2 linked regions of the Homo sapiens genome follow. The protein of the gene in region 1 purifies or fractionates together with the protein of each later gene. This does not show direct contact. Each region holds a gene or a part of one and is shown on either strand. Other genes may lie near its edges.

The links.
Region 2: the proteins of KCTD14 (region 1) and DNAAF5 purify together in Homo sapiens (affinity purification with mass spectrometry; one large-scale study listed by BioGRID and IntAct). This does not show direct contact.

What each region holds. Positions count from the first base shown.
Region 1 is NC_000011.10:78,014,955-78,017,807, reverse strand, and holds the end of KCTD14 (BTB/POZ domain-containing protein KCTD14), read left to right. Parts: intron 1-537; coding exon 538-1,215; 3' UTR 1,216-2,093; downstream 2,094-2,853.
Region 2 is NC_000007.14:778,377-782,198, forward strand, and holds part of DNAAF5 (dynein axonemal assembly factor 5), read left to right. Parts: intron 1-1,576; coding exon 1,577-1,768; intron 1,769-3,822. UniProt on the Homo sapiens protein: Cytoplasmic protein involved in the delivery of the dynein machinery to the motile cilium.

The sequences.
Region 1 (2,853 bases):
ATAACATTCTATGACCTAAAATTAAGATGCTTGAATGGGTATTCTTTTTTCAAACAGAAATCTTTCTTCCTCTTTAAAATGCCCACCCTCGGCCGGGCACTGTGGGAGGCTGAGGCAGGCGGATCACGTGAGGTCAGGAGTTTGAGACCAGACTAGCAAACATGGCGAAACCTCGTCTTTACTAAAAATACAAAAATTAGTTGGGCATGATGGCAGGCGCCTGCAGTCCCAGCGATTAGGGAGGCTGAGGCAGGAGAGTTGCTTTAATCGAGGTGGAAGTTGCAGTGAGCCGAGATTGCACCACTGCACCCTAGCCTGGGTGACAGAGCGAGACTCCGTCGAAAAAAAAAAAAAAAGCCCACCCCCTGGAGCAACACAGCATAAATATAACCCTCTTTAGTAAGATGGGCCTTTCACTAGCTGAAGCCAATCATTATGGCTCCCCTAAGTTTTTTATCCAGTTATCCTTTGGATAAAAATAAGTAATGCGCTCAGGGGAGATGGCGTGTTGGTTTACTCTGCCTCTTGTGCCCCCAGATGTCTACTGTTGTGGAGCTGAACGTCGGGGGTGAGTTCCACACCACCACCCTGGGTACCCTGAGGAAGTTTCCGGGCTCAAAGCTGGCAGAGATGTTCTCTAGCTTAGCCAAGGCCTCCACGGACGCGGAGGGCCGCTTCTTCATCGACCGCCCCAGCACCTATTTCAGACCCATCCTGGACTACCTGCGCACTGGGCAAGTGCCCACACAGCACATCCCTGAAGTGTACCGTGAGGCTCAGTTCTACGAAATCAAGCCTTTGGTCAAGCTGCTGGAGGACATGCCACAGATCTTTGGTGAGCAGGTGTCTCGGAAGCAGTTTTTGCTGCAAGTGCCGGGCTACAGCGAGAACCTGGAGCTCATGGTGCGCCTGGCACGTGCAGAAGCCATAACAGCACGGAAGTCCAGCGTGCTTGTGTGCCTGGTGGAAACTGAGGAGCAGGATGCATATTATTCAGAGGTCCTGTGTTTTCTGCAGGATAAGAAGATGTTCAAGTCTGTTGTCAAGTTTGGGCCCTGGAAGGCGGTCCTAGACAACAGCGACCTCATGCACTGCCTGGAGATGGACATTAAGGCCCAGGGGTACAAGGTATTCTCCAAGTTCTACCTGACGTACCCCACCAAAAGAAACGAATTCCATTTTAACATTTATTCATTCACCTTCACCTGGTGGTGATCCTCAGGAGCAGAGACTGTTATGAATTCTGGCGTGGCTTATGAAATTAAAAGTTGCCATCAAAGCCATTTTCTTTTAATTTCACAAACATCAGGCAATTTCCAGGGTTGGTCTAGAGTCTTGCCACTAAATATTGATCACTCGTTTAAGGACTTTCCACTCCATTGCAACTGATGCCACTATATTTGCCTAGCAACTTGCAGCTACTTCCTTTTCAAAGCCTCATGTATCTCCCAGACCCTTCTCTTGAAGTCCAATAACAAGACCAAGTAAGAATGTTTCAACAATGCGTTGGCAAGAGATGTGAGATGACAACAGGAACATACAAGATACTGTGAATCTAGATGTTCTGACCTAAAGATGTAGTCTACATAGCCCCAGCTTGGGGTCCAATCCATCTGTCCCTGGCATGTGCCTTCATGTAGTAGGTGCTTTCCTGATCCCCTTTGCGAGATGCTGTGGGTGCTAACACCTCAGAGCTGTCCTCTTCTCTAGAGTGGAGGTTTTCAAAGTGCATCATCAGCATTACCTGTGAACTTGCTGGAAATACAAATCCTCAGGCCCCACCTCAGACCTACTGAATCAGAATCTCTGGGGGTTGGCACAGCATTCTGATTTACCAAACCCTCCAAGTGATTTTGATGTATTCTAATTTTGAGACCATCTCTAGAAAAGAATTGCTACCTCTTGTATGGAGGTACAAAAGACTGACCTCTTACATCAAGGAACTTCCTTTCCCAGAGCTCCTCATGGAATCAAGCTGAAGTCAGTCTTCTTCTGAGAGCACATTCTTACTCAGTTTTTTTCCTCTGTCCTACGCTGCTTCCCTCACTCCCCTTCTCCTAAGAGCACTCCATCAATAAACCACTTGCACGAGAGTCTCAGTTTTGGTTCTGCTTCTCACCCTAATACAGGACTTGTCCTCTAAAGGAGGATACATGTAGACATTCATTCTTCTCCAAGTCCAGGTCTGAATTATATGACCCCCTTCCCTGCATAGTAGCTTGATCAGCTATGTGGGTTGTCTGGGACCTTCTTGGGACATAGGGTTTCTTTCTTGGGACCAAAGGGTTTCTTGGGATACAGGACTTCCAGTATGAAAACTTGGAAGTCTCATCGGGTGCAGTGGCTCACGCCTGTAATCACAGCACTTTGGGAGGCTGAGGCAGGCAGAGAACTTGAGGTCAGGGGTTCAAGACCAGCCTGGCCAACATGGTGAAACCCCATCTGTATTAGTCTGTTTTCACGCTGCTGATAAAGACATGCCTGAGACTGGGCAATTTACAAAAGAGAGAGTTTTAATGGACTTACAGTTCCACGTGGCTGGGGAAGCCTCACAATCATGGTGGAAGGTGAAAGGCATATCTCACATGACAACAGACAAGAGAGAGCAAGTGCAGGGAAACTCCCCTTTTTAAAACCATCAGATCTCATGAGACTTATTCACTATCACGAGAACAACACGGGAAAGACCTGCCCCCATGATTCAATTACCTCCCACAAGGTCCCTCCCACAACATGTGGGAATTCAAGATGAGATCTGGGTGGGGAGACAGCCAAACCATATCACTGTCTCTACTAAAAATAAAAAAATAGTTAGCCAGGTGTGGTGGCACATGCCTGTAGTCCCAGCTACTT
Region 2 (3,822 bases), on another chromosome or scaffold:
ATGGCCTCCTTGGTGGGGAAGGAAGGATGTCCTGAGTTGGGAGCACAGACATCCAGGCCTCCCAGGACAGACAGACACAAACATGAACAGCAGACAGGCCAGCGTGAGCCGATTCTGCCTGGCTTAGTCGTGCATGAAAGGAACCCTAAACTGGTACAAAAGTGGACCTGCAGGCCATCCAGGGAGTGACCATCGTAAAAACACAATAGCCAGTGCCACTCTGTGTACTTCCATAGTCGACCGCGCCAGCAGGAGGCCTCGGAGGATCCTGTCCGGGCCCATAGATGTTTGCTAGCGGGACAAGCTTGGGTGAGTTGAGCATCTGACTCCGTCCTTCCTCCTGAGACACGTGCAGCGAGGGCACCCACTGTGCAGCGAGGGCTCCCGCCGTGCAGTGAGCATACCCCCTGTGCAGTGAGGGCACCTGCCGTGCAGTGAGCATACCCCCCATGCAGCAAAAGCACCCCCCATGCAGCGAGGGCTCCCGCTGTGCAGTGAGCATACCCGCTGTGCAGTGAGGGCACCTGCCGTGCAGGGCTGCTTCAGGGTTTGGCACCATAATGCCTGGATGTGCTCCGTGGCTTCCTCCTTGGTGCCTGTGTTTGGTGGCTGGAAGGCCCAGCACCCTCAGGGCCCAGAACCCTCAGGGAAGTGCCTGGGCATCTGCCAGGAATTAACCCACTGGGTCCCACTTGTCTCAAAGCCTGGCTTGGTAGGATGGCCTGAACTTTGGATGTTTTTCATGCCTTTCGTTACATAGGATCCTCTTGCTGAGGGTGGATCATGCCCTCCACATTGCAAAAGCATCAGAGACCCAGCCCACCCTCGCGTCTGCAGCGGGAAGATGGGCCTGGTGCCAGGCGCGGGCAGCCGCCCCTCCCAGCGTCGGGAAGATGGGCCTCATGCCAGGCATGGGCAGCTGCCCCTCCCAGCGTCGGGAAGATGGGCCTCCGGGTGGTTTTGCGACTCAGTCATCTGCGAATTTCCGGATGCTGCACAGAAGGGGGTGCCAAAGTTTTTTTAAGATGATGTAAAAAAAGCATAAATTTGATAAAAATTATGTCCATTAACCTCATAAGTTTCTACCCATCGGGAAGGATCATCCTTCTGTTTTCAGCAGCAGAAAACTGACCACAGTAGGGGGTTGTCTGTCACTGAGTCCTCAGCTCTGGTGGGAGGGCAGGGTCAGAGCTGGGCAGGGTGGCCAGCTCGGGGATCTGAGCATCTGGGAGCAGGAGGTGGAGGGCCAGGTGAGCACACAGCTGCGAGGAGGTGGAGGACCAGGTGAGCACACAGCTACAGCTACAGGGAGGCTCTGCGCCTGCAGGACAGGTTATTACAGGGGCCGCAGCAGGGCCTGGGCCGCCTCCACTCTGTTGGCTGGGGTTCAGGGGTCCCAGGTCGCCAGGAGCACCTTGCATGTGGCTCGGGATGCACGGAGTCTCCCGTGAGGTGTGGGTTTCTTAGGACCCCAGGGCAGGTGTCCCATGGGAGTATGAACTAAATGCCTTTGTGGACGTTTAGACGTGAAATGTCTGCTCTAGACTCACACACCTGTCTCGCTCCCTCCTTCCAGAACTCTTAAAACGCCTAGATGACGTGTCCAACGATGTGAGGATGGCAGCCGCCTCCACCTTGGTCACCTGGCTGCAGTGTGTCAAGGGTGCCAACGCAAAATCCTACTATCAGAGCAGTGTCCAGTACCTGTACCGAGAGTTGCTGGTTCACCTTGACGATCCAGAGAGGGCCATCCAGGATGCAATTTTAGGTGAGACTCCGACGGCTTGGCCTTCGTTCCGATGCCTGCTTTCGGCGCCTGCCACGGGCATCTGTAGCTGAGCCGTGTGACCGGCCACAGGGCCCTGGGGCACAGGAGGGGCCTCAGCTCCGGCCTGGCACACTCTTGAGTTCTTGGCAAACCCTGAGAGCGGCTGTCTTTGTGGTGATAGCTGCTGACATTTCCTCTAACAGAAATCAAAACTGAGAGTATTCTAGAATACTTGTTAGTTGTTTAAAATAACAATAGTAAGCCCAGTATATATTGACACAGATGGCTTGTGTTTTTGAAAAATACTTTCCAAAACAAAATCATCTGCAAGAACGATTTTTGCAAATGTCTTAAATGTGTAGCTTGATGGAAGACACTGGACTTTCACATCTTCCATACAGTCAGTCATGATGTGTATGGCTCTGGCTGAAATACGTGGAAAATAATCTGGCCTCGCCTGTGGCTTCAAGTGTAGTTGGACAAAAGAAGAGTATTTTAGTAGCCTTTTCAGATAGGCGTGGGACTTCTTCAATACCACGCCAACAGCGACACAGGCCGTCCCTTGAAGGTCACTCACAGCACAGGGCCTGAGGCCACACACCACAGAGCCTTCCACGCTCAGTGCATTAAAATCCGCTGGTCCATCTCACACTTGGAATGTAACGATTTGCTTTTTTTTTTCTTTTTTTTTTTTTTGTTTTGTTTTGTTGTTGGTGAATATAATGACGTTGTTCTTTTTTTTAATAAAATTTGTATTTTTAATTTTTGTGGGTACACATAGGTGTATATAAGGCATGTGTGATACTGTGATACAGGCATGCAGTGTGTGTAAATCACATTGGGGAAATGGGGTCCCCGTCACTTCAAACACTTACACTTTCTTTGTGTTACAAATAATTCAGTGATACTTTTCGTTATGTTTAAATGTGTGATAAATTATTGTTGACCATAGTCACCCTGTTGTGCTATCAAATACTAAATCTTACTCATTCTGTTTTTGTACTCATTAACCATCCCCACCTCTTCCCCCGGCCCCATTCCTCTTCCGAGCCTCTGGGAGCCATCCTTCTGCTCTATCTCCATGAGTTGAATTATTTTTATTTTTAGTTCCCACAAATGAGAATGTGCGGAATTTGCCCTTCTGTGCCTGACTTATTTCACTTAACATAGCGACCTCCACTTCCCTCCATGTTGATCCAATGACTGGATCTCATTTCTTTTGTGGCCGGATAATATTCCACTGCGTGCGCTCCACGTTTTCCTTCTCCCTTCATCTGTCCGTGGACACCCCGGTTGCTTCCACACCTTGGCTGTCGGAACAGTGGGGCATTCGGCGTGCGCGTGCAGCTCTCCCCCATAGCTGAATTCCTCTCTTTTGGGTATTTGCCCAGAAGTGGGATTGCCGGGCTGTATGGGGCTCTATTTTTAGTTTTGGAGGGACCTCCAGACTGTTCTCCCAGCGGTGCTCATTTACATTCCCACCAGCAGCGTGAGGGTTCCCTTGTCTCCACATCCGCGCCGGGACTTGTTTCCGCAGCCATTTTAACTGGGGTCAGAGGATGTCTCACTTGTTTCTATGTGCATTTCTCTGAGGAGCGGTGGTGGTGGGCACCTTTTCAGACGCCTGTTTGTCATTTCCATGCTGTCTTTTGAGAGCTGTCTGTTCAGGTCTTTTACCCATTTTTAATTGGATTATTAGATTGTCTGCTATTGAGCCTGAGCTCCTCATATATTCCAGTGATTAATCCTTGTCAGGCGGCGGTTCTAAGATACAGTCTCCCATCCCGTACCCGCGGGCTGTCCCTGCGGCTGTACTCTGCTCATTCTTCCCTTTGCTGTGTGGAAGCTTTGGGCCTGGATGTGCTGACTTTGCCTTTTGCCTCCTTTGGAAAATACTTAGACCTTCCCCGCGCAGCTGCGTCCGGTTTCCCGGCGTGGCTACATCCGGTTATGCGATGTCGGATCTTCCTGGTGTGGCCGCCTCCCGTCGCGCAGCGTCAGAAACTCGGATCTTCGCGGCGTGGCCGCCTCCCGACACGCGGCGTCAGAAACTC